Linked DNA regions of Homo sapiens: regions 1 and 2 are each linked to region 3. Evidence: fine-mapped expression QTL. A gene starts in region 3. Each other region holds a variant in brackets. All regions are shown on one strand. Distances are from middle to middle. Region 1 overlaps EPPK1 (epiplakin 1). Region 2 holds the start of LOC105375799 (a long non-coding RNA gene). Region 3 holds the start of LINC02878 (long intergenic non-protein coding RNA 2878).

Region 1 (10,194 bases), 160 kb before region 3:
TGGAGGCGCAGGCGGCCACCGGCTTCGTCATCGACCCCGTGCGCAACCTGAGGCTGTCGGTGGAGGAGGCCGTGGCCGCGGGCGTGGTGGGCGGCGAGATCCAGGAGAAGCTGCTGTCGGCCGAGCGCGCCGTCACCGGCTACACCGACCCCTACACCGGGCAGCAGATCTCCCTCTTCCAGGCCATGCAGAAGGACCTCATCGTCCGGGAGCACGGCATCCGCCTGCTGGAGGCCCAGATCGCCACGGGCGGCGTCATCGACCCCGTGCACAGCCACCGCGTGCCCGTGGACGTGGCCTACCGGCGCGGCTACTTCGACGAGGAGATGAACCGTGTCCTGGCCGACCCCAGCGACGACACCAAGGGCTTCTTCGACCCCAACACGCACGAGAACCTCACGTACGTGCAGCTGCTGCGCCGCTGCGTGCCCGACCCGGACACCGGGCTCTACATGCTGCAGCTGGCAGGCCGGGGCTCCGCCGTGCACCAGCTGAGCGAGGAGCTGCGCTGTGCCCTGCGCGACGCCCGCGTGACGCCAGGCTCGGGCGCCCTCCAGGGCCAGAGCGTCTCCGTCTGGGAGCTCCTCTTCTACCGCGAGGTGTCCGAGGACCGGCGCCAGGACCTGCTGAGCAGATACCGGGCGGGCACGCTGACCGTGGAGGAGCTGGGCGCCACCCTCACCTCGCTGCTGGCCCAGGCCCAGGCCCAGGCCCGGGCCGAGGCCGAGGCCGGGAGCCCGCGCCCAGACCCCCGGGAGGCCCTGCGTGCGGCCACCATGGAGGTCAAGGTGGGCCGCCTCCGGGGGCGCGCGGTGCCCGTGTGGGACGTGCTGGCGTCCGGCTACGTGAGCAGGGCCGCCCGGGAGGAGCTGCTGGCCGAGTTTGGCTCGGGGACCCTGGACTTGCCCGCGCTGACCCGCCGGCTGACCGCCATCATCGAGGAGGCCGAGGAGGCCCCCGGGGCCCGGCCGCAGCTCCAGGACGCCTGGCGCGGCCCGCGGGAGCCAGGGCCAGCCGGGCGAGGGGACGGCGACTCGGGGCGCTCCCAGCGAGAGGGCCAGGGGGAGGGCGAGACCCAGGAGGCCGCCGCCGCCACCGCCGCCGCCCGCCGCCAGGAGCAGACCCTGCGTGATGCCACCATGGAGGTGCAGCGCGGGCAGTTCCAGGGGCGGCCGGTCTCCGTGTGGGACGTCCTCTTCTCCTCGTACCTGAGCGAGGCCCGCCGAGACGAGCTCCTGGCCCAGCACGCGGCCGGCGCCCTGGGCCTGCCCGACCTCGTCGCCGTCCTCACCCGGGTCATCGAGGAGACGGAGGAGCGGCTCAGCAAGGTGTCCTTCCGCGGCCTGAGGCGCCAGGTGTCCGCCTCCGAGCTGCACACGTCCGGGATCCTGGGCCCCGAGACCCTGCGGGACCTGGCCCAGGGCACTAAGACGCTGCAGGAGGTGACGGAGATGGACTCGGTCAAGCGCTACCTGGAGGGCACCAGCTGCATCGCGGGCGTCCTGGTGCCCGCCAAGGACCAGCCCGGCCACCAGGAGAAGATGAGCATCTACCAGGCCATGTGGAAGGGCGTGCTGCGGCCCGGCACGGCCCTGGTGCTGCTGGAGGCGCAGGCGGCCACCGGCTTCGTCATCGACCCCGTGCGCAACCTGAGGCTGTCGGTGGAGGAGGCCGTGGCCGCGGGCGTGGTGGGCGGCGAGATCCAGGAGAAGCTGCTGTCGGCCGAGCGCGCCGTCACCGGCTACACCGACCCCTACACCGGGCAGCAGATCTCCCTCTTCCAGGCCATGCAGAAGGACCTCATCGTCCGGGAGCACGGCATCCGCCTGCTGGAGGCCCAGATCGCCACGGGCGGCGTCATCGACCCCGTGCACAGCCACCGCGTGCCCGTGGACGTGGCCTACCGGCGCGGCTACTTCGACGAGGAGATGAACCGTGTCCTGGCCCACCCCAGCGACGACACCAAGGGCTTCTTCGACCCCAACACGCACGAGAACCTCACGTACGTGCAGCTGCTGCGCCGCTGCGTGCCCGACCCGGACACCGGGCTCTACATGCTGCAGCTGGCAGGCCGGGGCTCCGCCGTGCACCAGCTGAGCGAGGAGCTGCGCTGTGCCCTGCGCGACGCCCGCGTGATGCCAGGCTCGGGCGCCCTCCAGGGCCAGAGCGTCTCCGTCTGGGAGCTCCTCTTCTACCGCGAGGTGTCCGAGGACCGGCGCCAGGACCTGCTGAGCAGATACCGGGCGGGCACGCTGACCGTGGAGGAGCTGGGCGCCACCCTCACCTCGCTGCTGGCCCAGGCCCAGGCCCAGGCCCGGGCCGAGGCCGAGGCCGAGGCCGGGAGCCCGCGCCCAGACCCCCGGGAGGCCCTGCGTGCGGCCACCATGGAGGTCAAGGTGGGCCGCCTCCGGGGGCGCGCGGTGCCCGTGTGGGACGTGCTGGCGTCCGGCTACGTGAGCGGGGCCGCCCGGGAGGAGCTGCTGGCCGAGTTTGGCTCGGGGACCCTGGACTTGCCCGCGCTGACCCGCCGGCTGACCGCCATCATCGAGGAGGCCGAGGAGGCCCCCGGGGCCCGGCCGCAGCTCCAGGACGCCTGGCGCGGCCCGCGGGAGCCAGGGCCAGCCGGGCGAGGGGACGGCGACTCGGGGCGCTCCCAGCGAGAGGGCCAGGGGGAGGGCGAGACCCAGGAGGCCGCCGCCGCCGCCCGCCGCCAGGAGCAGACCCTGCGTGATGCCACCATGGAGGTGCAGCGCGGGCAGTTCCAGGGGCGGCCGGTCTCCGTGTGGGACGTCCTCTTCTCCTCGTACCTGAGCGAGGCCCACCGAGACGAGCTCCTGGCCCAGCACGCGGCCGGCGCCCTGGGCCTGCCCGACCTCGTCGCCGTCCTCACCCGGGTCATCGAGGAGACGGAGGAGCGGCTCAGCAAGGTGTCCTTCCGCGGCCTGAGGCGCCAGGTGTCCGCCTCCGAGCTGCACACGTCCGGGATCCTGGGCCCCGAGACCCTGCGGGACCTGGCCCAGGGCACTAAGACGCTGCAGGAGGTGACGGAGATGGACTCGGTCAAGCGCTACCTGGAGGGCACCAGCTGCATCGCGGGCGTCCTGGTGCCCGCCAAGGACCAGCCCGGCCGCCAGGAGAAGATGAGCATCTACCAGGCCATGTGGAAGGGCGTGCTGCGGCCCGGCACGGCCCTGGTGCTGCTGGAGGCGCAGGCGGCCACCGGCTTCGTCATCGACCCCGTGCGCAACCTGAGGCTGTCGGTGGAGGAGGCCGTGGCCGCGGGCGTGGTGGGCGGCGAGATCCAGGAGAAGCTGCTGTCGGCCGAGCGCGCCGTCACCGGCTACACCGACCCCTACACCGGGCAGCAGATCTCCCTCTTCCAGGCCATGCAGAAGGACCTCATCGTCCGGGAGCACGGCATCCGCCTGCTGGAGGCCCAGATCGCCACGGGCGGCGTCATCGACCCCGTGCACAGCCACCGCGTGCCCGTGGACGTGGCCTACCGGCGCGGCTACTTCGACGAGGAGATGAACCGCGTCCTGGCCGACCCCAGCGACGACACCAAGGGCTTCTTCGACCCCAACACGCACGAGAACCTCACGTACCTGCAGCTTCTGCAGAGGGCCACCCTGGACCCTGAGACGGGGCTCCTATTTCTTTCTCTCTCTCTACAGTGACTGGGCTTCCTCCGTGCAGTTTTCTGCAACTCTGGAGAAGTGGAGGCATACTTGTGTGTCTGGGTTGTTTTTTTTTTTTTTTTTTTTTTTGTCATTCTTTAATTTTGTTGTTTTACCCATTCGTTATCTGTGGAAAACGTTTTAAGTTGTCATGTGACAGAAACTTTTCCTTTGTCCATCGAGGTGTTTCATAAGTTTTTTGGTGTGTTTTCTGGGTCGTCTATGTGTCATATGGTTTTACTTTTCTCTCCTTTTTCGTTTTCAGAACATTTTTCTGTCTGTTTTGGATTCACTGCTTCCATTTTACAGAATGTCACTCTTTAGACTCTCAGTCCATCATGCCATCGGGTACTCTTGTTGCAGTGTAATTTTTATTACATGCGGTTATTTCCCTAACGATGTGCTATTCACGTTCATCTTCAAACTCATTTTCCATCAGCCAGTGTCTACTATTTAGTGCCCTGGCTCTATTTCGGTCCTCCTCCC[C/T]GGGCTTTCCCTGGCTGCTGTGCTGGCCAAAAGCATGGGCTTTATTCTCTCCATTGGCTGCTGCTCCACCTTAGAGGTGTGACCTCACTAGCGTTGACTGAGCGAGTCTGTTGTGGAGAAGAACTTTTTGTAGTAATTTACTAGGAAAAATTCTGAACAAGTAAAATATGAAGGAAACTCTTGTTTTTGATTTCAGGTTTTTGAAGGTTCAATCACTAATCTTTATGCCCTTAATATACAGATAGTAGATTAAACAAGGGAAGCAAGCCGTCCAAAATCCAGGGTTCCTAGAGCCGTATCTCAGAATTTTATGCACACAGGTTGCAGTTAAGTCTTGCTCAAAGTTTTCTGGGAGAACCAAGAACTTTCATTGTTAATGGAAGTGTGGCAATTGGAGCAGGTGACAAAGAACAAGCCCTTTCGAGTCCCCCCTTCATTCACTCCACACATGGGTTGCCTTTGGCGTCTGGGCCACTTGGTCTCCAATGGTAGCAGAACACAGCAAGAATCCATGTGTTCTGCCTGGTGGCTGTGTGTGGTTGGCCTCCTGGGGGCCTGCGGGCTGGGCATGGACGCCGTGGAGGACACTCCCTGTGCTAGACTGGCTGGAGCGAGGGCAGATAGAGTGGACAGGGCTTGGACATTCTGGATGAAGAGCCAGTGGCCTCAGGGCAGAAATGACACCAGGGTAACTCATCAAAATGTGCCTCCCAGGCTCTAGAAAATCCCTGGTAGGGTCTGTGTGGCCTTTGCAGGAGCATCTGGCCCATCTGGAGGTGGGTTTGAGGGGACGGGGCCACAAGGAAATGGAAACAGTAGTGGGGTTCACATGTGCGAACATTCACAGATGCCAAAGTAGGCACTCGGCACAATCCGCTTAATAGCTCTCATCCAGACCACGTGCAACCAATGATGAAGGCTAGGATGGGGGATGCGGTCAGGGCACTAGCCTTGAAAAGGGGGACAGGGAGAACCTTCAAAAACAAGTGGAGGAAAGGCATCAGCAGGGTGCTTTCAACCACATTCTTCCTGTTGTTCTTGAGGAAGTCCTGTGTGTGTGCCCGATGCCTGTGTTGCGGAAGTTCTCACTGTGAACTTTACAGCAATGCTGAAGCAGGAATTAGCATGCCTGATTAGTGGTGATGGGACCCACGTCTTTCTATCCTTTTACCTTTACCTTGTCTTTGTCATTGTATTTGCAGTGAGCCTCCTTAGGCAGCATATTAATGGGTGGGGTTATCTTTATCCAATTTCACAATTTCTATGTTTGAATTGGCACATTTATACCGTTACATTTTATGTAATTATGTGTTTGGACTTATTCTTTGTTTCCTTTCCCTCCTCTGTTTTTTGTTCATTTCCCCTCCCTTAGCTACCTTCTTTTGGATTATTGGAATATTTTTTAGTGTTCCATTTAAATTTACTGGCTTTGGGCCATTGTTTTCTAATTTTTTATTGGTCGCCCTGGAGATTACAGTATACTTAGGATTTTTGACAGTCTTCTTAGAGTCTCCGCTCTGCCACTTCATGTGAGGTGTGGTCTCTTCCTCCACATCCCCCACCCCCCATTCTATCTTTGTCATGTTATCAGATTTACATGCATTGAAAATCCTACCAGGTAATGTGGCAATTTTGTTTTCAACAGTATAGATTTTTTTTTTCTTTTTGGAGATAGAGCCTTGCTCTGCCACCCAGGCTGGAGTGCAGTGGTGCAATCTTGGCTCATTGCAACCTCCGCCTCCCTCCCAGGTTCAAGCGATTTTCGTGCCTCAGCTTGCCAAGCAGCTGGGACTACAGGTGCGCACCACCATGCCCGGCTTTTTTGTGTTTTAGTCTCTACTCAGTGGTGTTTCATCATGTTTCCCAGGCTGGTCTCAAACTCCTGAGCTCAGGCAATCTGCCCACCTTGGCCTCCCAAAGTGCTGGGATTATAGGCGTGAGCCACCGCACCCAGCCTCAGCAGTAATAGATACATAGATATAGATATAGATAGATATGTAGATGTATAGATATATAGATAAATAGATATATAGATATAGATATATAGATATAGATATATAGATATAGATATATAGATATAGATATATAGATATACAGATGTATTTTTTTGAGACGGAGTCTCGCTCTGTCACCCAGGCTGGAGTGCAGTGGCACGATCTCAGCTCACTGCAAGCTCAGCTTCCTGGGTTCACGCCATTCTCCTGCCTCAGCCTCCCGAGTAGCTGGGACTACAGGCACCTGCCACCATGCCCGGCTAATTTTTTGTATTTTTAGTAGACACGGGGTTTCACCATGTTAGCCAGGATGGTCTCGATCTCCTGACCTCGTGATCCGCCCGCCTCAGCCTCCCAAAGTGCTAGGGTTACAGGCGTGAGCTACCAGATATTTTTAATGATTTAAAAAGTGAAAACAGCATATTATGGTTCTCTAAATATATACCATTTCCATTGCTCTTTCTGCATTCCTGAAGTTCCAGGTTCCCTCTGGTATCATTCCCTTCAGGCTAAATACCTTTCTTTAGCATTTTCTTTTAAAGTTGGCAGGTGAAGCACTTTGGGAGGCCAAGGCGGGCAGATCACTTGAGGTCAGGAGTTCAAGACCAGTATGGCCAACATGGTAAGACCCTGTCTCTACTAAAAATACAAAAATTAGCTGGGCGTGATGTTGCTTATAATCACGGGAGGATGAGGTGGGAGAATCACTCGAACCCAAGAAGTGGAGGTTGCAGTGAGCCAAGATCACACCATTGCACTCCAGCCTGAGCAACAGAGTGAGTGTCCACCTTGGCTCGTGGGTGGGAACTCATGAGCGCCCACTCCAAGCTGTGTCCTCTCAAAAAAAGTAAATAAAGTCTGCTGGTGAGGAATTTTACACATATAAATACATAAAATATTTGATTTGAGTTTATCCCATCTGGAGTTGGCCAAACTTTTTGATTTTCATAAGTTTATATCTTTCACTAAATTAGAGAACTTTTCTGCCATTATTTCTTCAAAATAAATGTTTTATGTACTAATATCTTTCCATTCCCCTTCTGGAACTTCAAATACAAAAGTGATAGATGTTTTGATATTGTTTCACAGCTCTCTGAAGCTTTGTTCATTTTTTTAAAAAATCTTTTCTCCTGTTTTTCAGATTAGATAATTTCTATTGATCTCTTTGTAAGTTTACTGACTCCTTCCTCTGTAATCCCCCTTTTGCTATTGAGACACTCAGTAAGCCTTTTTTTTTTTTTTACTTTGAGACAGAGTCTCACTCTGTTGCCCAGGTTGGAGTGCAGTGGGGCGTGATCTCAGCTCACTGCGGAGTCCGCCTCCTGGGTTCAAGTGATTCTCATGCCTCAGCCTCCTGAATAGCTGGGACTACAGCTGTGTGCCACCATGCCTGGCTAATTTTTGTACTTTTAGTAGAGACAGGGTTTCTCCATGTTGCCCAGGCTGGTCTCAAACGCCTAGACTCAAGCGATCTGCCCGCCTCGGCCTGCCAAAGTGCTGGGGTTACAGGCATGAGCCACTGTGCCTGGCCAGCTTTTTTACTTCAGGTGATTTTTTACTTCAGGTAATATGTTTTTCACTTCTACCATTTCCACCTGCTGAGAACGTCTGTCTTTTCACTCATTCTTGGGGTGTCCACTCTTGCCGCGGGGAGCATCGGGCTGGAATTGCTGCTGTGAAATCTTTTCCTGGTCCCTCCAGCATCTGAGTCCTGGGGTTCTGCCAGCAACTGTCTGTCTTTTCCCCTGAGACCGGATCCAATTTCCAGTCCTTGGCATGTTGGGTAATTTGGGGTTGTATCCTGGATGTTTTAAATAATCAGATGCGAGGCTCTGAGCCCTGCGAGAACGCGCTTGAGAATGTTGGCATTTTCACTTTGGCGGGCACTCATCCCGGCTGGGTCAGGCCACAAGCCGTATCCCAGCCGCTGTGTGCAGTGGATCCGTGTTGGCTCAATTCTCAAGGCTGTTGCTGTGCGGCCTGTTCCCCACACGTGCTGCTCAGCTCAGGCAAGCACCGAGCTTGTGTTGTTTCATGCTCAGCGTGGAGGCCCCTCCTCCAGGTCGCTGCTCTGTGGGGTTCCCATACACTCAGGCTCCTAGGAGGAGTCCATTTAGAAAGCCAGGGTTTTTCTCAGAGTCTTAGTTCCTTGTGCTGTCATCCATTTCACACGACTTGGGCCCTGCTCGGGGCAACACAGCAAGAGAAAAGACAGGGAAAATAAGAGAGGGACCTTGCACACACACGCTCTGGACCACAGAGCCCTGTGCCCAGCTCCTCTGTCAATACAGGTGGAATCTCGTGCAGGATCGCAGGGGTCTGTGATGCCACCAAAGAGCAGGCCGGGACAGGGTTAGGAGAGAAAGGAGAGGGAAGTGGGGGTTTCTCCTACGCACTCTTATTTGCAGAGGGAAAGGCGGGTTTGTATTGGGGTTGTCGGTCTTTGCACCCACGGCACAGTTGTGAGACACCCCCATCCTCAGATCAAAGCCGCACATACAGCTGGGGAAAAACAAAACAAAACAAAACAAAAACAGTAAACCTCCATGCCAGTTGTTGGTAAGTTTTGAGTTTCCTCCCCAGCCAGCTGCTACTGTTAGCGTTTCACAGTCCTCCAGGAGTCGCTTTTTATATTCTGTCCAAAGGGAGAGAGGAGCTGTAGTGGCTGTGCTCCATCTCTGCCAGCCCAGAAGTTTCCAGAAGTGCTCTTCTGATTTTACAGGTGAAGAACCGGAGTCCTGGGGGTGTAACAAGCCCAGGTCCTCAAGGCAAGGGTGGGAACTCACGAGCGCCCAACTCCAAGCTGTGTCCTCGCCCCGCAAGCTTGTGCTGGTCACTGCTGCCCTGTGCCCCCCGGATAGAAACACTGCTGGAGGAGAAGCCTTTCTCAGAGCCCTGGGGAAGGGGATGGTCAGGCCACCTACACTCCTGGCCCTGCTCCACTGGCTGCACTGGAGTGGCATCTGGATGGACAGCAGCCGGCTGGAGACTGGGAGGAGGCCTGGGTGCAGGAGGCTGGGGCGCTGGGCAGCATGCGCCGCGGGGCAGCAGGACGCAGGGGCCTCCCAGCGGGACTCGCACGTGGCACTCTCTGGGGCAGGTGGTGACGGGAGGCAGACACACTCCAGGGGAGTCCCTCAGTCACCATGCTCCAGGTACTTGCGCCTCACGTTTAGAACCAGGGTAGATTTGGAGACTCCTGGGATCTTTTGACAAAATTTCTCTCCAATCTCTAAGTACAAAGGATGCTCCTACAAAGGGCCAGATGGCAAGTCCTGGGATGGAACCCCTGCCCTTGGTGCCACCACTGCTCTTTCATAACTGTGGGCTCTTCCGAAAGTGACTTCATGGCTCAGTGCCTCAGTTTCCCTTTTTGTAAAATGGTCATCATGGCTGGGCGCGGTGGCTCAGGCCTGTAATCCCAGCACTTTGGGGGGCCGAGGCGGGTGGATCATGAGGTCAGGAGTTCGAGACCAACCTGACCAACATGGTGAATCCCTGTCTCTACTAAAAATACAAAAATTAGCTGAGTGTGGTAGGTGCCTGTAATCCCAGCTACTCAGGAGGCTGAGGCAGGAGAATCACTTGAACCCGGTAGGCGGAGCTTGCAGTGAGCTGAGATCCCGCCACTGCACTCCAGACTGGGCGACAGAGTCTCTGTCTCAAAAAAAAGAAAAAAGAAAAAAAAAGGTCATCATAATAACACTTAACTCACTCAGCAGTTGTGAGTACAAATAAAATTCAAATCCTGGAAGTGTTTGAAAAACATCCACAAGAATGACAGAAAGGAGAAGCACACTGTTGTTTTTGTTAGTTTTAACATTCGTGTGGCTTTTTTCTTCCTATCCGAAAAAGAGATTTTCTCCCCGATCAGCCCAAGTCATCCTTCTAGTGGCAAGAAAATTAGGAATGTTATGGAAAGAATCCCAAAAGAAAAAACGAGTGAATATTCAGATTCACATTTTTCTTTTTTCTTTTTTTTTGTTTTTTTCTTTTTTGAGATGGGGTCTCGCTCTGTCACGCAGGTTGGAGTGCAG
Region 2 (10,194 bases), 31 kb after region 3:
GTAAAACACCTTACAGCTGCATGCAAATCTAAAATTATCACAAAAAGCTTAATTAAAAATAAATAAACGTGTTCCTGCCTAGCTGCCTGGTCTAATTAAATTAGGGTGGGTGCATGTGGGACCTGGCTGCCGCAAGTGACGCCAGTCCATAACCGGGGCTGACACCATTGCCTCTGGGGTCCCCACCAGGTCCCCCGCCCTGCGCAAGGCACAGGTTACCTTTACTGCTAAGGTTCTAACTATGTGAACCCCTTCTAAAGGGCGAGCCAGGGAGAGAGGCCCCAGAGGGCCGGCACTCTCCCGAAACCAGCTAGGAGAGGATGCGGACACCACACAGAAGGCCCATCGCACCCCTTTGGTAAACCGTAAGTCTCATAATCCCAGCAGTTCAGGAGGCCGAGGTGGGTGGATCACCTGAGGTCAGGAGTTCAAGACCACCCTGGCCAACATGGTGAAATCCTGTCTCTACTAAAAATACAAAAATTCGTCGGGCATGGTGGCGTGCACCTGTAATCACAGCTACTCAGGAGGCTGAGGCAGGAGAATCGCTTCAACCCAGGAGGCAGAGGTTGCAGTGAGCCGAGATCTCACCACTGCACTCCAGCCTGAGTGACAAGAGTGAAACTCTGTCTCAAAAAAAAAAAAACCCTTAACTAATGGGTACAAAAAAATTAGAAAGAATAAGACCTAGTATTTGATAGCACAACAGGGTGACTATATTCAATAATAATTTAATTGTACATTTTAAAGTAACAGAGTATAATCGGATTGTTTGTAACGCAAAGGATAAATGCTTGAGGGGATGGATACCCCACTATCCATGATGTGACTATTACACTTTGCACGCCTGTATCAAAACGTATACCCCATGGGAGGCTGAGGCAGGTGGATCACTTGAGGCCCGGAGTTCGAGACCAGCCTGGCCAACATGATGAAACCCCGTCTGTACTAAAAATGCAAAAATTAGCCAAGTGTGGCGGTGCTCGTCTGTAGTCCCAGCTACTCGGGGGCTGAGGCAGGAGAATCACTTGAACCTGAGAGGCGGAGCTTGCAGTGGACTGAAATCACGCCACTGCACTCCGGCCTGGGTGACAGAGTGAGACTCTGTCTCAAAAAAAAAAAAAAAAGAAACAAAAACATGTACCCCATAAATACGTACGCCTACTATGTGCCCACAAAAATTCAAAACAACGCAAAACAAAACCTCTTAACACCAAATCCTAAAACTCTTAGTCTTCATATTTGATTTCTTTTTTTGAGGCAAGGGCTTGCTCTGTTGCCCAGGCTGGGGTGCAGCAGCCCGACACAGCTCACTGCAGCCTAGACTTCCTGTTGTCCAGGCTGGTATCAAACTCCTAGACTCAAGCAATCATCCCACCTCAGCCTTCTGAAGTGCTGGGATTATAGATGTGAACCACTCCAACCCCATATTTGATTTTTGTACAGCAACAGTTCCCAGATATAAAAACAGGCTAACCATGATGGCTCACAGCTTTAATACTAGTGCTTTAGGAGACTGAGGCAGGAGGATCATTTGAAGCCAGGAGTTAGTTTGACACTTGCCTGGTCAACATAGTGAGACTTCATTTCTACAAGAAATTTTTTTAAAATTAGCCAGGTGTGGCCAGGCGCAGTGGCTCACTCCTGTAATCCCAGCGCTTTGGGAGGCTGAGGCAGGTGGATCACCTGAGGACAGGAGTTCAAGACCAGCCTGGCCAATATGGTGAAACCCTGTCTCTACTAAAAATAAAAAATTAGCTGGGCGTGGTGGCAGGCGCCTGTAGTCCCAGCTACTCGGGAAACTGAGACAGGAGAATCTCTTGAACACGGGAGGCAGAGGTTGCAGTAAGCAAAGATTGTACCACTGCATTCCAGCCTGGGAGGTTGCAGTCAGCTGAGATCACACCACTGCACTCCAGCCTTGGCAACAGAGTGAGACTCCATCTAAAAAAAAAAAAACACAAACAAACGAAAAAAAGAAAAACAATTAGCCAGGTATAGCATTCCTGTAGTCCTAGCTCTTCAGGAGTGATATGGTTTGGGTCTGTGTCCCCACCCAAATCCCATGTCAACTGTCATCCTCAATGCTGGAGGTGGGGTCTGGTGGGAGGTGATTGGATCATGTGGGCGGATTTCCCACTTGGTGCCCTTCTGGTGATAGTGAGTTCTCTTGAGATCTGGTCTGTTAAAAGTATGTGGCACCCCAGCCTCGGCATCGTCTGGGAAGTGAGGGGCACCTCTGCCCGGGTACCCCCACTGTCTGGGAAGTGAGGAGCGTCTCTGCCCGGGTCCCCCGACTGTCTAGGAAGTGAGGAGCGCCTTTGCCCGGCTGCTGTGCAACCCTCCAAATGTGAAGTGATAGCCTTGTGTGTAATCTTTCTACCTGCCCCAAGTTTGCATTTTCAACATTAAAGTTTACTTTTTAACTAAAAGTTTTAAATTGGAGAATTAAAAAAAAAAAAGTATGTGGCACCTCCCCACTCCTCTCCTCCTCCTGCTCTGGCCATGGAAAACGTGCCCACTTCCTGGGATTACAGGTGTGAGCCACCACACCTGGCAGGAAGTTTTGAAGTAGACTCGACATAATTGGATTTACATTTGTTAGATACAGTGAGTTCCTCTTCAAAGGTTCCACTTTACAGCAAACAACCTTCCAGCCACTCCCAATCTATAACCCAATCTGTAACCCACATCTGTTCCCAATCTGCAGCCCAATCTGTAAAACCCACATCTGTTCCCAATCTGCAGCCCAACCTGTAAAACCCACATCTGTTCCCAATCTGCAGCCCAACCTGTAAAACCCACATCTGTTCCCAATCTGCAGCCCAACCTGTAAAACCCACATCTGTTCCTTATTTGGCCACTGTAGCCGCCCCTGATCCATTTGAAGTAGCCAATGGGGATCGGCTTAGATGGTGTGGTGCGACTCCAGCCAATGGGGACTGGACACAGTAGCAGGGCGTGACTGCTTTAGGGATAAACACCCCTGCCCTGCTTTGTTCGGTGTGCTCTCCCAGTGGCCAGAAGAGAGAGCGGCACTCTTCTGCAGAAGTAAATTTGCCTTGCTGAGAAGGCAAATTTGTGAGCACTCAAAAAAAAGCCAGTGGAAGTTTTTTTTTGTTTGTATTTTGAGATGGAGTTTTGTTCTTGTTGCCCAGGCTGGAGTGCAGTAACACAGTCTTGGCCCACTGCAACCTCTGCCTCCCAGGTTCAAGCGATTCTCCTGCCTCAGCCTCCTGAGTAGCTGGGATTACAGGTGTCTACCACCAGCCCTGGCTAATTTTTTGTGTGTGTTTTTAGTATTTGAGTGCTCATTTTCTTTTTTTTTTTTTCTTTCTTTTCTTTTTTTTTTTTTTCAGACAGAGTCTTGCTCTGTTGCCCAGGCTGGAGTGCAGTGGTGCAATCTCAGGTCACTGCAAGCTCCGCCTCCTGGGTTCACGCCATTCTCCTGCCTCAGCCTCCCGAGTAACTGGGACTACAGGTGCCCGCCATCTTGCCCGGCTAATTTTTTGTATTTTTTTTAGTAGAGACGGGGTCTCACCATATTTGCCAGGATGCTCTAGATCTCCTGACCTCGTGATCTGCCCACCTTGGTCTCCCAAAGTGCTGGGATTACAGGTGTGAGCCACCGCGCCCAGCCTTGAGTGCTCATTTTCTTTGCGACTCCAAGCTCTTATTTCCAACACATTTGAGAGGAAGCTGTCCTTGTGCAGTCTCAGCTGTGTGATTGTGTGGGCCAGCTGTGCAACATGTCAAGTTACTTTACCTTTCTGCATCAGGGCGCAATCAATCAGCAGACAGAAACTGCACAGTCATTTGGGCAAGGAACGTTTAATATAAAGGATTATTTACTATAATGGAATTATCTGTACAGGGCTAAAGATAATGCAAAAGAATACTCTGGGCTGACAGAGAGTTCCCAAGGAAGGAGAAAATGTGAAAGATGGCCTCCTCCCCAAGGCTGGGGCTCAAATCTTGGAAAAGGTGTGGTTGCAGAGATGCTGTTTGGTGCAGTATGGATGATGGAGAGGTTCTCTGGTTTTCCCGTAGCCAGAGCTGGTCCACAGTCAATGGGCAATCACTCCTGCAGGTGTAGAGGGGTTGAAGGTGGCAGGTAGGGAGCCTGGCCAGGACTGGCAAGCAGGAAACACCTCTCTGGGGCAGGCTGAGGCTGGATGCTGACCAGTGGAGCATCTGCAAGACTCACGGGGATCCACCCATGGCATTGCAAGTGAAGTTGGCTGGGGGTGAGCAACACTGAGTGTGCTGGCAGCCACATGGCAGGAACAAGAAGAAAACAGAAGAAAGTGCAGAACAGGAAGAGAAGCACTTTCCTCCTGCAGGGTCCCTCCAGTGCCCTCTACTTACAAAGCTTAACGTCATACCTGCTTTAAAGGAGAAACAATTTAGGGCCCAGCTCCATTTTCACCAAGCAGGCGATGAAGTATGTATTTGAAGCTGAAAGACAGTAAATGGAGAATTGGCAGTTTCAAGCCTCAGTTGGGCCCTTGGTTTTCTCAGTACTCACTCTGTGCCTCCCAACAACTAATCTTCTTTCTGATTCTCCAAGTAGCTCTTTCAACACTCCGTAAAAATCCTATCCACCATCTTTCTTCCCACTTGGAAGAAAACCTTGCCTTTTTTTTTTTTTTGACAGGGTCTCACTCTGTCATTCAGGCTGGAGAGCAGTGGTGCGATCTTGGCTCACTGCAACCTCATCCTCCTGGGCTCAAGAAATCCTCCCACCTCAGCTGCTTGAGTAGCTGAGACAACAGGTGCATGCCGCCACGTCTGGCTAATTTTTGTATTTTTTGTGGACACGAGATTTTGCCATGTTGGCCAGGCTGGTGTCAAACTCCTGGGCATCTGCCTGCCTCAGCCTTCCAAAGTGCCAGGATTATAGACCTGAGCCACCAAGCCTGGATCTTGTCTCTTATTTTACAGGGAAAATACATAATAATGTGTGTTTGATTACAATTGAATAATGCAGGCTTTGGGAAATCCACCTGTTATGGGTTGATTTGTTTCCCCCCAAATTGAAATGCTGAACCTAATGCCCGGTACCTGAGAATGTGATTGGATTTGGAGATAGGGCCTCTAAAGAGGTAGTAAAGTTAAAATGGGGCCTTTGGGTGGGCCCTAACCTGATCTGACTAGGGTCCTTCTAAGAGGAGGAAATTTGGATGCACAGAGAGACATGGGATGTGTGTTTGCACAGAGGGAGGGAGGGCCTTGCGGGGACACAGCATGGGATGTGTGTGCACATGGAGGGAGGTAGGGCCTCGAGGGGACACAGCATGGGATGTATGTGCACATGGAGGAAGGAGGGAGGGCCACGCATGGACACAG[C/T]GTGGGATGTACATGCACACGGAGGAGGGAGGGCCACGTAGGGACACAGGATGGGATATGTGTGCACATGGAGGGAAGGAAGGCCTCACGGGGACACAGGATGGGATGTGTGTGCACACGGAGGGAGGGAGGCCACGCATGGACACAGCATGGGATGTGTGTGCACACAGAGGAGGGAGGGGCACGCAGGGACACAGGATGGGATGTGTGTGCACACGGAGGGAGGGAGGCCACGCATGGACACAGCATGGGATGTGTGTGCACACAGAGGAGGGAGGCCACGCGGGGACACAGGATGGGATGTGTGTGCACACAGAGGAGGGAGGGGCACGCAGGGATACAGCATGGGATGTGTGTGCACACGGAGGAGGGAGGGGCACGCAGGGACACAGGATGGGATGTGTGTGCACACAGAGGAGGGAGGGGCACGCAGGGACACAGGATGGGATGTGTGTGCACACGGAGAGAGGGAGGCCACGCATGGACACAGCATGGGATGTGTGTGCACACAGAGGAGGGAGGGGCACGCAGGGACACAGGATGGGATGTGTGTGCACACGGAGGGAGGGAGGCCACGCAGGGATACAGCATGGGATGTGTGTGCACACGGAGGAGGGAGGGAGGCCACACAAGGACACAGCAAGAAGGCGGCCATCGGCAAGCCAAGGAGAGGAGCCTCCGGCAAAACCCAACCTGGGACACTTTAGTCTCTTCTGGCTTCCGGAACTGTGAGAGAATAATTAATTTCTGTTGTTAAGTAACCTACTCTGCAGTATTTTTAATGGCACCCTGGTGTAACTAACATACTACTGGTGTTGGAGTATTTTATAACTTGTGGAGGCCATGGAAGCATCCCCCGCGCTGTCAGGGAGGCAGAATGTCCTGTGAAAGGAACAAAATCACTTTGGACACACCTGGCAACTGGGCAAAACCTCAACTGGTTCCTTGATCAACAGAGTGAGTCTTGTAGTGGGAAAATCAAAGTGGAAGCTCCTGCAACTCTACCCTCTGTGGAGAATGGCAGGCGTTAAGGCCACCTGTGAAGACGTAAAAGATCCGCACTCGCCTTGCTCCCATCCCCCTCGTCCCCAGGCTCCTCGTCCCAGTGCCCCTAGTCCCTGTGCCCCTCGTCCCCACCCACCTTCTTCCTGTCCCTTGTCCCCACCCACCTCATCCCCATCCCCCTTGTTTCTGTCCCCCTCATCCCCGCCCACCTTATCCCCATCCCTCTCATCCCCATCCCCCTTGTCCTCATCCTTCTTGTCCCCGTCCCCTTATCCACCTTGTTCCTGTCCCCTTAATTCACATCCCCCTTTACCCTGCCCTCCTTGTCCCCATCCCCCTTATCCCTGTCCCTCTTGTCCCCACCCGCCTTGTTCCATCCCCCTCATCCCCATTCCCCTTGTCCCCATACACTCCCTTGTCCCTGTCCCTCTTGTTCTTGTCCCCCTTGTCCCCATCTGCCTGTCCCCACCCGCCTTACAATCTGGAAACCCAACCCCTGCGGAAGCTGCATGACCGTGGTGGACAGCAGTGGACTACCACAGGCTTAAACAGTAGTAGCTGAGGCACGCTTGTGGCCATCCACATGGTCTTTCCAGAAGAGACTGATGTGGCCACGTGCATGTGGTTTTTGGCTACTGGTCTGATAAACACATCATTTCCGAAACCTGTTTGGAAGGGGAATCGGAGCAGTTCCTGCCCACGCGGGGCCAACAGCGGCACACAGGTACGGTCGCTCCAGAACCGAGTGGGGTGCCTCGTCCCAACATGGCCCAAAGGCCTGACCCACTGGATGGTCCACGAGCAAAGGTTGGCCCATTCAGTGGATGCCTTAATGGGCACTGGACTCATGCAGAGATAGCAGGTGCGCTGATGGCCTCAGAAAAACACGGGCGCTGTGGAGGGCAGGAGGCAGACTCCGTACACTTCAGAGACCTGCCCCATGAGCAATGTTCTCAGGGTGCGGTGGCCTGTAGGGTGCTGGGGCAGGCCCGATGCCTCTTTGGGCTTGAAGGCAATATGTTCTGCCCTTGGCGGGGGAGAGGGAAAGCCGTCGGCTCTGAGTGGGGTCTGGAGCAAGGGAAGGGGCTGAGGCAGGCCCAGGCTGGGTGACAGGCAGTCCTGCCACGTGGGTCATGTGGCCGTGAAGTTCCCACAGGCTTCACATGTGTGGCAAAGACACGAGTGGCGCCCATGACGAGCCTCAGTGCAGGATGTGCAGCCCAGGCCCAAGGCCACCGGCGCAGGGCCCCGTCATGTTCAGGGGACTCCACCAGCTGGTAGGTGGTGCGGGCAAGTGTTCGGGCCCTGACCGTGGAGGCCACGGTGTTTATGAGACTGGCGCTGCCCATCGTGACTGGGTGCTGTCGGAGCTACCAGTCGCACATCCAAGGGGCCGTCAGGAGTTTACTGGGAGATGGAAGTGGAGTCCAAGATTGGGCTTGGGCAGGTCCAGAAGGCACAAGGATGGCCCAGGTCCCCGTGCCACCCTCTATTCTCCACTGGGCCTCTCCCCAAGCCCATGCCTGTGGCTCCATGGGGAGGTCCCCGAGCCCTGCTGCAGGAGACGGGTAGTCTCGTACCTGGCTTACGGGGGGGCCCGGTGTGCTCTGTGGCCCTCCAGTCAGAGCAGGGCTCCTGCAGCAAGGCAGTCGGTGAAATGCAGCTCCAGCCCACCTCACAGTGGCCCAGTGGGTCCCTGAACCCAAAAGGCAACACTAGAGCTCCACAGCCTAGAAGCCGCACACCGCAGCGCGCCGTCTTCACCCTTCCTTGGCTATGAGCTCTTCCAGGCAGCACAAAGCACAGGGAAATGCCCCAGGGTGACGATGTGACTGCTTGCAGCCTGCTTTCAAAAAGAACGCCAGGAACACAGGCAGGAAAGGTGGGCAGGAGAGAGAATGAGACTGATAGCCACCAGGTAGCTGACTCCAAATTAATAGGATTGTCAACTCCTTACCAATTTATATTTACCGGTTACATAAAAAATGGTACAGTGACCTCCCCTTCCAGCCATGATTAACAAGTATTGGACTTGCCCTCCTGCCCTAAACTAGAAAGCTGGACAAAATCCATGCAACAGCTGCTGTTAGATGTTGGAGGGTGCAGTGCTGTGACCTGCCCAGGAGGATGGAGATGGGGGGGGCACCTCCCATGATGCCAGCTCTCTGCCTGGTGGCATTTTCTAGAATACAGCATATGAAGGGGAAACACAGGCATGGTATCAACTCACTAAGTTGAGGAGGCAGAGGTTGGACTCTGGGGAGGTACAGAAGGCTCGCATTTATGGGGTCCAGTACGAGAAAGAAACTGGGACCCATGAAGAGGAAGTCCCCAGTGCTGCCATGAGTGTTTGGATGAACGTTAAGCTGCACACACCATGGGGCCAGGCCACAAGCCACGGGGAGCTGACAGCAGACAATCCCCAAATAGCTTGCAGGCCTGGGAGGTGCTCAAAGTGTGATGAGCCAGAGTGGTGGGCCTTGCTGCCCAGTGGCGGCACTCAGTGAGAACTGCGAAGGGTCCAGCCCTACCAGGAGCACGGCTAACCTGGAGTAAAGGCCGCTGTAGACCAGCCTCAGCCAAGCTCAGAAACAAGCCTCAAAGGACTAAGCTGATCTACAGTCATTAAGCTGCCTGCAAAAAAATTCAATAATTTTGAAAGGAAGACAAATTTCAGACCCTCAACAATGTAACATTCACAATATCTATCAAAAAAATTACTAAACACACAGAGGTGAAAATGTCACCCATAGCCAAGAGAAACATCCATCAGCTGGAGAACATCCAGGCCGGGTGTGGTGGCTCATGCCTGTCATCCCAGCACTTCGGGAGGCTGGGTGTGCAGATCACTTGAGGTCAGGAATTTGAGGCCAGCCTGGTCAACATGACAAAACCCCATCTCTACTAAAAATACAAAAATTAGCCGGGCGTGGTGGCGTGCATTTGTAGTCCCAGCTACTCGGGAGGCTGAGGCAGGAGAATCGCTTGAACCTGAGAGGCAGAGGTTGCAGTGAGCTGAGATCGCGCCACTGCACTCCAGCCTGGGTGACAGAGTGAGACTCCATCTCAAACAAAACAAAACAAAACCCTGAAGAACATCCAGACATGATAAAGATGGTGGAATTAGCAGATAAGAACTTTTAAAAAGCCAAATGAGTAATTTCACAGGTTTAAAGGAAAACGTGGTAATGAGGAAAGGAATGAAAGGTATAAAGAAGAATCCAGTAGAACTTCTACAGCTGAAAAACCTACATCTGAAATGAAAAGTTCAATGGTGGAATGAACATGAGACCACAAAGGCTTCTGAACCTAAGGTGACCTTTTAGAAATAAAAACAAAACAAAATAAACAAACAAAAAAGACCTCAAAGGCAAAAGAAAAGGTCAATGGACTTGAAGACAAACCCACAGAACATGCCCACATTGCAGCACAGCGAGCGAAGGGGCAGGAAGGCACCAGCAAACAGGGCCACAGTGCCCCGAAGGCGAGCGAAGGGGCAGGAAGGCACCAGCAAACAGGGCCACAGTGCCCCGAAGGCGAGCGAAGGGGCAGGAAGGCACCAGCAAACAGGGCCACAGTGCCCCGAAGGCAAGTGAAGAAGGAGCAGGAAGGCACCAGCAAACAGGGCCACAGTGCCCCGAAGGCAAGCGAAGAGGCAGGAAGGCACCAGCAAACAGGGCCACAGTGCCCCGAAGGCGAGCGAAGGGGCAGGAAGGCACCAGCAAACAGGGCCACAGTGCCCCGAAGGCAAGTGAAGAAGGAGCAGGAAGGCACCAGCAAACAGGGCCACAGTGCCCCGAAGGCGAGCGAAGGGGCAGGAAGGCACCAGCAAACAGGGCC
Region 3 (10,194 bases):
AACACAGGCAAATGACTCGAACACCAAAGACCCACCAACCAACCAGAAAACACAGGAAACGACTTGAACACCAAAGACCCACCAACCAACCAGAAAACACAGGAAACGACTTGAACACCAAAGACCCAACAACCAACCAGAAAACACAAGAAATGACTCGAACACCAAAGACCCAACAACCAACCAGAAAACACAGGAAACGACTCGAACACCAAAGACCCAACAACCAACCAGAAAACACAAGAAATGACTCGAACACCAAAGACCCAACAACCAACCAGAAAACACAGGCAATGACTTGAACACTAAAGAAGTACAAATGCCGATGCATGTCCCCAACAACCAACCAGAAAACACAGGCAAACAACTCGAACACCAAAGACCCAACAACCAACCAGAAGACACAGGCGAACGACTTGAACACCAAAGACCCAACAACCAACCAGAAGACACAGGCGAACGACTTGAACACCAAAGACCCAACAACCAACCAGAAGACACAGGCGAACGACTTGAACACCAAAGACCCAACAACCAACCAGAAGACACAGGAAACGACTCGAACACCAAAGAAGTACAAATGCCGATGCGTGTCTGAAGACAGCCATGCTGCCCAGGAAACGGGGAGGGGCAAGTCAAGCCAGTGCCAGGATGAGGAAGACCCAGAGTAAGGGGCTGTGGAGGGCACCTGTGTCATTGCAGAGCCTGGGAGTGTGGAACGCTCCTGATTTTGTTGGCTGGCTGCTGCTATTAAATCTAAAACAGCCCTGCTCTTTGACTCAGCAGATCGACCTCTAGGAATCCATTGTGTACCTTTGTTGTGGGTTGCAGAGTCCCCTGAAAAATTTACGTTCAAGCCCTAACCCCCAGTACCTCAGAACATGACTGTATTTGGAGATGAGGTTGTTGCAGATGTCATTAGCTGGGGTCATGCGGGTAGGCCCTAATCCAATGTAACTGGTGTCCTTATGAGAAGCTGGTCACATGAAGACAGAGACACAGGGAGAACGCGTGTGCCAACAGAGGCAGAGATTGGAGTGATTTTCTACATGCCAAGAACTGCCAGGAACTGCTGGCAACACTCAAAACTGGAAGAAGCAAGGGAGGATCCTTCCCCTACAGGTTTCAGAGGGAGCACAGCCCTGCTGATGCCTGGATTGTGGACATCAGGCCCCCAGAACTGAGAGAATTCATTTCTGTTGTCTGAAGCCACCTGGTCTGGGGTGTCCTGTTACAGCAGCTGCAGGAACCTGGCAAGGCCCAGGTGCACACAGACGCAAGAGCGGGGATACAGGCACGTGTGCACACAGATGTAAGAGCAAAGACATTCACTGCGGCGGAATTCACAGCACCAAAACGCTGGGATTGCAGGCTGTGTCCTTCCACAGGACACATTCATGGGACAGCATGCGGTTGCTGGAAAGAGCGCACACAGACGGAATGAAGAAGCACATGCGGGGCGCACAGGACGACTCCACACGATGAGGAGCACACACACGCAGGTTTGTGCCTACACAGGTGTTGGACAAGTATTTGTTGTGTCAACCTAAAAAGAAACTCAAGAGACAAGCTCTCCAAATAAGCGAGTTGATTTGAGAATTGCAGAGAATTGCAATTCGGGGTATTTGGCAGGCTATAGGTGTATCCAGGGGAGTTGGGGAAAAGGGGAATCTTAAAAACAAAAAGGGCCAGGCGCAGTGGCTCACGCCTGTAATCCTAGCACTTTGGGAGGCCGAGGCGGGTGGATCACCTGAGGTCAGGAGTTCAAGACCAGCCTGGCCAACATGGAGAAACCCAGTCACTACTAAAAATACAAAAATTAGCTGGGTGTGGTGGCTTGCGCCCGTAATCCCAGGTACTTGGGAGGCTGGGGCAAGAGAATCGCTTGAACTCAGGAGGCGGAAGTTGCAGTGAGCCGAGATTGCACCACTGCACTCCAGCCTGGGAGACAGAGCGAGACTCCATCTCAAAAACAACAACAACAAAAACAAGAACAAAAAAGAAGCCCACATAAGCTGTTTTCAAAGCCAAGGGTCTTTTACAGGAGTCTGTTACAGGAGCTGGAATTAGTGCGTGGGCTGAGACAGTCACTGCTGGGCAAGCGTCCGTCTGGGGTAGGCAACCCTGAGGGCGCCCTGTGGGTCCTGGAACCGTCTCCGTGCAGGAGTGTCTTGGGCTGCGTCCTGTCACAGGCCTCTGTATCTGAGGACTTCAGGGCTACCCCGACTCCATGTTGGTAGCGGCAGCTTTCACAGTGGACACACTCCACCATCAGGAAAGCTCATTCCACAGGAGTAGGGGCAGTAAGGGGGCTTTACCCTTTGTGCTGTATTTCCTGGAGAGCAGAAGGCCTGTGTGAATTGTAACTCGGAATAAACTTCACTAAAATAACGTGCACTTAGCTCTCTTTTGTAGACAAAAGTTGCCTGATGTATTGGCCAAGGGAACCCCAACTGCATTCCACCCCTTCTGGCAAGAGAACATCTCTCTTCACATCAGACCAATCAGAACCCCGGGGATCCACGGCGAGGGGATTTGGCTGTGTATGGACAGGACAGGGCAGTACTCGAGCAAGGAAGAGGACGTGAGCCTGGGTGTTCTGGGCCCCAAGTGGAAGGTCTGATCCGCTGTGCTGTGGGGCCAGACACCCAGGGCCAACCCCGGGCCACTCAGCAGGGGGTTTGCTGTGGGGAGCTTGTGCAGAGAGAGGCGAGTTCCATGCAGGCGTGGCAGGGCTTGTGTGGGGGTCTGCAGCTGGATGGTCCTTGAGAGAGGAGCCACGGGGCCAGGCGTTAGCACCCCTCCATCTACTAGTTCCTGGATGTGGCCCCAGGAAGGGGCATAACCTTGGAACAGACATCTGCGTCAGCGAAGGTCAAAGCAAAGGTGGCGGCCCCTGAGGGCTGTGGCCAGCAACACTCAGCACCTACCAGGAAGGGCAGCCGAAGGGGGATTGGAGAAGTGCATTTTCAGCCTCCCGAGTAGCTGGGACAACAGGCGTCCACCACCACCCCTGGCTAACTTTTGTATTTTTAGTAGAGATGGGGTTTTACCATGTTTGCTAGGCTGGTCTCAAGCTCCTGACCTCAAGTGATCCGCTTGCCTCAGCCTCCCAAAGTGCTGGGATTACAGGCGTGAGCCACCGCGCCCAGCCTAGGGCTGGATTTTATCTATGGGATTAAAGGGAGAGATGGAATCAGGAAGAGAGTAGGACTAGGTCTGCATCTGCACGCTGAACAGATTTGGCCAGGAGGACCTGCCCTGAAGAACAAGGCAGAAGCCATCAGTTTCGTTGAGTTGCCACAAAAGACTTGGTGTATTTCCCTTCAGACATCTCTCCTCTCCCAACCTGTAAGTCATCTGAGAGGGTCACTCCCTGTCTCTCGCCACGTGTCCAGGTGACAGACCTCAGGCCCCTTTAGGAAATCCTTAGATGCTCAGGCATGCGGCTCCAGGGCCGCGGCCAGCCGAGTTGCTGAGTAAACCCCAAGGAAGGTGATGGGCGATGGAGACCGTGTCCTACTGCTCGGCGGCCGCCGTACAGCCCACCACAGCTCCCCGGCTGCTGGATCCACCCGACATCTGTTCAGCAGTGTCCAAATACTGAAATTTTAACTAGTCACTCACTTTCCTTATTCCTTTTCAAATAAATTGTTTCCGCCCTTTCCCCTCTTTGCATGGTGGTTTTGTCATCTCCCACATCCGGAGTTGCAAAAAGGCCCTGAGGTGGCTGGGCACAGTGGCTCATCCCTGTAATTCCAGCACTTTGGGAGGCCGAGACGGGTGGATCACGAGGTCAGGAGTTCAAGACCAGCCTGGCCAAGATGGTGAAACCCCGTCTCTACTGAAAACACAAAAATCAGCTGGGCGTGGTGGCGGGTGCCTGTAATCCCAGCTACTTGGGAGGCTGAGGCAGAGAATTGCTTGAACATGGACATGGTGGTCGTGGTCCCCGGTGGAGACACTGCAGCTGGAGGTGGGGTGAGTGGACTGAGCACCTTTGAAGTAGTGTGATCAGAAGACGAGGCTGGCCGACCCCTCTGTGGAAAGGACACAGCCCTCCAGCTGTGGCAATGGGTGTGCAGGCCACAGGCTCACCTGTCCTAAGGCGGGGCTGCTCTGCCTTTGTTTGGATTGTGTGTGGTATCATGGCTCTCCTGCAGTCAGGCTGCCACACTTCCTAAGTGTGCACGTGTGGGGAGGGGAGGAGTGGGGAGTGTGAGTGATTCTGGGTGCTCAGGTGCATGACAGCTGGTCTCCCCTCATGGAGTTACCACTGTAACCGGACTCCAGGCTTCCACCATCGGCCCTCGAATTTTACATAGGATGGTTGGCCCCGGGAAAAGGAGCCTCTGAAGTTTTAAAATCCAATATGGCTCCAACATTAAGCTCACACTGGGGACCAGCTCAAAACCCACCCATTTCACATTCCCCAAAACGTTTCGTTTGGTGGGCCTGTGATTTAGCTCCCAAGAGGTCACAGATACAAACACAACGAAGCGAGCTATTAGGGCTGGACATGCACTCAGTGACGCAGCTGTCCCTCCACCCTGGCCCGGGTCAGGTTCTGCCAACTCCACACGCACACTCTTCGTTTGAAGGGTCCCAATGGGTTTGAGGACCTGTAAGACTGGTACGCACGGCGGACCCCATGAACACCCAGAACAACAGTGAGTAGAGTTTATGATACGTTGTAACTAGAATGACCCCAAATATCTTTATTTACTTGGCATTGTACTTCCCAAAGAAGAATATTGCAGCCACTGGGCCTCCCTTCAGAGTGCAGAGAGGCAGCTCCAGGAGCTGAGCCTGCTGGGATGCAACTCCTCCTCCTAGCACCATGGACTCCTTCATCTTTCAGTCAAGGCTGCCAGTGGCTACCACGTGGCCCTCCCATTCCTGGAGCTCTCAGCTGCATCCGCCACCTGCTCTCTCGACGGACTTTTTTTTTTTTGAGATGGAGTCTCACTCTGTCGCCCAGGCTGGAGTGCAGTGGCACGATCTTGGCTCACTACAACCTCCGCCTCCCAGGTTCAAGCAATTCTCCTGCCTCAGACTCCTGAGAAGCTGGGATTACAGGCGGCAGCTACCATGCCCTGCTAATCTTGGTGGACTTTACACTGGACACATGTGTGCTGAGCGCTAACACAAAGGCCAGGCAAGTGTCCCCTGGAGACAGAGGGGTGGAAGGCTAGGTCACAGGCATGGCTGTCAACGGACCCTGCTGTGCACCCATTCTGGCCGCGAAGTAGCTTCATGCATTCTCTGCCCAAGATAAATGCAGAGAAAACTCGGCTCTACAGGCTCACAGGGAGTGACGGCTGCTGGCCCCAGGAAGGAAGATGCTCCTTACGGGACACCTGCTGTGAGCCCCTTCTGTCACCCCACCCCCGCCTGGGTGGTGAGGAGGCCAACAGGGCAAGATGCAGAGCCTCCCGGCCCCTCACACCCCCATGGGCTCCTCACCACCATTCTCTCCCCAGGCCTTTTCTGTGGACCTGACCTTCTTCAGCGACCCAGGAGGCAGGAAGGGAAGCCTGAGTGTTAGAAGGAAAGACAACTAAGAGCAGCAGCCTGACCGCAGCTGAGCACGGTCGTGCTCCTCCCTGGGGAAGTGCCAAGGGAGGGACCCCCTGCTCTACCCGGAGCCCTGGAGCCCTGCTAAGCAGGGTGGAAAGCCTGCAGCCCGGGGGGTACCGCGACTGTGGCCCAACCATCCAGTGTGTGAGCCCTGGATGATGAGGCCACCAAGAGCAAGGCAGCCCGCTTGGACAACTGACCATCATCTGACGAGGCAGCGCATCACCCACGTCTCTGCTGTTCACATTTAATCCTGCACAAGAGCGTCACAAAGTGACAGCATTGTGAGGGACTAACGACCAGGCACAGGTGACCCTGGACGCGGCCAGTGGCTTCCTGCAGGGCGCTCAAAACCCAAGTCCTTATGATCCGCCGCATCTACTGCCGAGACACCAGCTGCTCCGTCCCCACCTGTGCTCAAGCACCTGAAGGCCCTTCCAACGGCGCCCGCTGGGCAGGGGACAAACCAGACACGAAACACACATGCGCTTTTACCAGCCTGGACTCTGTAAGAGAAAGGCACCCCCATATCCCCCCTGGGGAGATTTCCACTTATCCTGCAGGGCCCTCACTGCCTCACCGGGCTCTGCCAGGGCCTGCCCCGCAGGGGCAAGTGCTTTTCCTACACAGGGTCTGTGGGCCAGGACAGACCCAGAGGAGCTTCTGCTACGGGCTGAATGGTCACTCTGAAATTCCCATGTGGAAGCCCTAGGCCCGACGTGATGGTATGAGGAGGTCTCTGGGAGGTGATTTGGCTTCGATGGGGTGATAGGGGTCATGGGATCCGGGCCCTCACAAGGAAAAGGTGACACCAAAGCCCCTCCTGACATGAGGATGCCTCTGAACCAGGAGGCGCTCGCCGGAAACGGACCCTGTTGGCACCTCTACCTCGGACTTCCAGCCTGCAGAGCTGGAGAGAATAAACCTGTGTTGTCTGTGGGGCTGCCGGTGGTGTCCTGGTAAGGCAGCCCTGTGACTCCATGACCGACAGCTGCTCTCTACAATCTTCCGTGAGCACGAAGAAACTCATACTCATGCTGCAAATAAAAGATTTGGGGAACTTTTAAGCACACCAACCTCCCGGCTTCAACAGCTGTCAACATTCAGCCAATACTGTTGTGTCTTTCTCCTCTTTATTAGAATCGTAAAGTACATCCCAGGCGCCACGTCATTTCCCCACAAAGACGTCCAAATGCATCTGAGTGAGGATTCCTCCGTAACCCTGTGTCACCATCACCGCTAGCAGCCAATTCCGCACCCCCACCCGACTCACGGCCCACCCACCCGACTCACGGCCCACCCACGCAACTCACGGCCCACCACGCAACTCACGGCCACCCACCCGACTCACAGCCCACCCACCCGACTCACGGCCACCCACACGACTCAGTCCATCCACCCGACTCACGGCCCACCCACCCGACTCAGTCCATCCACCCGACTCACGGCCCACCCACCCGACTCAGTCCATCCACCCGACTCACGGCCCACCCACCCGACTCAGTCCATCCACCCGACTCACGGCCCACCCACCCGACTCAGTCCATCCACCCGACTCACGGCCCACCCACCCGACTCAGTCCATCCACCCGACTCACGGCCCACCCACCCGACTCAGTCCATCCACCCGACTCACGGCCCACCCACCCGACTCAGTCCATCCACCCGACTCACGGCCTACCCACCCGACTCACGGCCCGTGCCCACATTTCCATGATTGTCTCAAAAGTGACTTCGCACTCGGTTTGCTCCTACCAGGGTCACACACAGCCCCCTCGGCCTTTCTGCGTGCCCGTCTTCCCACAGAAACGTCGCCGTCTGGTGGCATCTCCAGCCGGATCTGGCTCAGGGCTTCCTCTCGGTGTGTTCAACCTTCTCCTCATCCCCCTATTTCTTGTAAACTCGTTTCTGATTCCAACATTACATATGCATCTGTTGGCTGGAATTTTTTTTTTGAGACGGAGTTTCACTCTTACTGCCCAGGCTGGAGTGCAATGGCGCAACCTTGGCTCACCACAACCTCCACCTCCCGGATTCAAACGATTCTCCTGCCTCAGCCTCCCGAGTAGCTGGGATTTCAGGCGTGAGCCACCACGCCTGGCCTGGCTGCAATTCTTAAAGAAAAACAGGCAAAAGCAAAAATAATTGGCTAACCTGAAACACGGCAGTGTCCCGACCCATTCCCACGGGGGTCTTCCCTTGGGAACACCACTGGCAGATTTTTATTTCTGGCTGGATAAGCAGACACCTTAAGTTTAAAACAAAGAGGTCACCTCTTCCCCCACGAAATGCGATGTGGTGGATATGGCCACCTCACTGCCCTGAGACCCAACTTGATCTCCCAACTCCAGGTGCATGACCCAGGCTCTGACCAACAGAGCTGGGTGGAGGCCGTTCCTGCAGCACTGGGGGTGGCCCTGACCTAACCACCACTCCTAATCCTTGAATGAGGTTCAGTATTACAAAGGCTCTTGTTTCTACGGCCCAGCGCAGAGGCTGCAGGAGGGTCTTTGCCTCTGTGCAATGCTCACAGCTGCCTCGCCCAAGACAGAGACAAGAAGGGAAGCCAGACCGGGCAGCCAGCATGGGGTGCAGAGCCAGGAAGGAAAGGCCCAGCAGACGGCGACTCGGGGCCAGGGTGGAGTCCCTGAGCCAGACGGCTGTGGGCACCAGGCAGGCTTCTCCGCCTCTGAGCCCGGCCTGGCACGTGGCTCCGGGGTCGCGCACACTCTCAGCACATCCCCAGGATGCCCGGCGCCGGGGCGCAGCCCCCGCCATCTCCAGAGCCCCCGCCATCTCCGGCGTACCCATGGCTCTGCTTCTCCCACCTGGCAGTTTTCCCAGTAAACTTCTCGGGGGACTGGGGAGCTCTGAGGACTAAGAAGGCTTCTCTGAATTCAGGTTGATTTTCCAGGCTGAAGAGCAACTTCTCACTGCAGCTCTCCCTCAGGACCCAGTACTCCCGCAGAGGCGCAGCACCCCACTCTTCGGGCGCCCCTACACCTCCCCGTGCCTGTGAGTCCTCTGATGCCGCGTGAAGAACCCCAGGTGACGGAAGCCTTTCCCACAGTGGCCGCACTCGTAGAACCTCTTCGTCAGGTGCAGCCTCCGGTGGATGCTGAAGCCCTTGGGCCACCGGAAGGACTTGCCGCACTCGGCACAGGTGTAGGGCTTCTCCCCGCTGTGGACCCTCTGGTGGTGGCTGAGGTTCTCCTTGGTCCGGAAGGCTTTGCCGCAGTCCGCGCAGTAGAACGGCCGCTCCCCGGTGTGCACCAGCTGGTGTCTGAGAAGGTTGGACTTCTGCTTGAAGGCTTTCCCACAGTCGCCACACGAGTAGGGCCTGTGCTCGGTGTGGACCTTGCGGTGCTGAGCCAGGCGGTCCTTCAGGCTGAACGCCTGCCCGCAGGCCTCGCAGCAGAAGGGCTTCTCGCGCGTGTGGTTCTTCTGGTGGCGCTGCAGGTTTGAAGCCCACCGGAAGGTCTGGCCGCACTCGGGGCACTCGAAGGCCTTGGTTCCCGTGTGCACCGTCTGGTGAGCGAGCAGCCGGCTGTGGCAGCTGAGCGCCTTCCCGCACGTGCCGCAGATGAATGACAGCTCTACTGCGCGCTGCTTCCGGCGCTCTCTGCGGCCCGGCCGCCGCCCACAACGCTGCGTGAGCACCTGACACGGGAAAGCCGTGGGCTTGGCGTCTGTCCTTTCTGGAGCAGCTCTGGGAAGCTGCCCGTCATCCGTGTCCAGCCTGAAGCCCTTCCTAAAGCTGCTTCCTTCCCTGGCTCTTTCTCGCCGCACGTGGGTTTTCTTGTGAGCCCAAGCTGGATGATCACAAGGTCTCTTGGGGTCTGCAGACTTCCTTGCCCCTGTGGAAGGAACAGACACCCTTACACAGAGCCAGTGGCCCACAGCCAGGCAGTGCCTCCAGCAAAGCCCAGAGGAGGCCGGGCGCGGTGGCTCACGCCTGTAATCCCAGCACTTTGGGAGGCCGAGGCGGGTGGATCATGAGGTCAGGAGATCGAGACCATCCTGGCTAACAAGGTGAAACCCCGTCTCTACTAAAAAAAAAAAAATACAAAAAATTAGCCGGGCGCAGTGGCGGGCGCCTGTGGTCCCAGCTACTCGGGAGGCTGAGGCAGGAGAATGGCGTGAACCCGGGAAGCGGAGCTTGCAGTGAGCCGAGATTGCGCCACTGCAGTCCGCAGTCCAGCCTGGGCGACAGAGCGAGACTCCGTCTCAAAAAAAAAAAAAAAGCCCAGAGGACCCTCCTGCTGTGTGCGTGGACTGGCTTCCATTGACTCAGCTCATTCCACATGGTTACGAGTGATCAGGAAAACTCGTTCAAAGAAACACAGATGAGCCACAGGTATCAACAGCGGAAGCCAAGATGAGCTCAGATGCTTCCCCAGCCCCGGTGGTACGCAGGCCACCCGGCACTGCTGACGTGAGGGAGAGCCGACACATGCCTGCCAACCAACAGAAGCAACTGGGCCAAGAGAATGTCCTTTCACCCTGTCCACGCCAGCAGGCCCCACTCATGCGGGTGGAGGTGGTGCTAGGATGTCGTCTAGAAGACGGGTAGCTCCACCTGATTCTCAACCACTCAGCCTCAGAGCCATGGCT

What was found.
Region 1: its variant is fine-mapped to the expression of LINC02878 in liver (GTEx, PIP 0.98).
Region 2: its variant is fine-mapped to the expression of LINC02878 in sun-exposed skin (GTEx, PIP above 0.99).

Annotation. Positions count from the first base shown.
Region 1 is chr8:143,851,470-143,861,663 of GRCh38, reverse strand. It overlaps EPPK1 (epiplakin 1), which reads left to right. Exons shown (of 2, transcript NM_031308.4): 2 at 1-4,340. The coding sequence ends at 3,677. Among named protein-coding and RNA genes, the nearest start is that of NRBP2, 16 kb to the right of the region's middle. RefSeq lists an enhancer at 3,418-3,920. The variant C/T (reference allele first, on the strand shown) is at 4,164.
Region 2 is chr8:143,662,109-143,672,302 of GRCh38, reverse strand. LOC105375799 (a long non-coding RNA gene) reads right to left here and starts at 9,185. Exons shown (of 4, transcript XR_928737.3): 1 at 7,935-9,185; 2 at 6,264-6,386; 3 at 4,386-4,458; 4 at 3,816-4,084. RefSeq lists enhancers at 2,256-2,756, 2,757-3,257. The variant C/T (reference allele first, on the strand shown) is at 5,350.
Region 3 is chr8:143,692,914-143,703,107 of GRCh38, reverse strand. It overlaps LINC02878 (long intergenic non-protein coding RNA 2878), which reads right to left and starts at 5,993. Exons shown (of 2, transcript NR_015445.1): 1 at 5,467-5,993; 2 at 4,695-5,169. ZNF707 (zinc finger protein 707) reads right to left here. Exons shown (of 6, transcript NM_001100598.2): 6 at 7,723-9,437. The coding sequence ends at 8,578. RefSeq lists an enhancer at 2,814-3,314.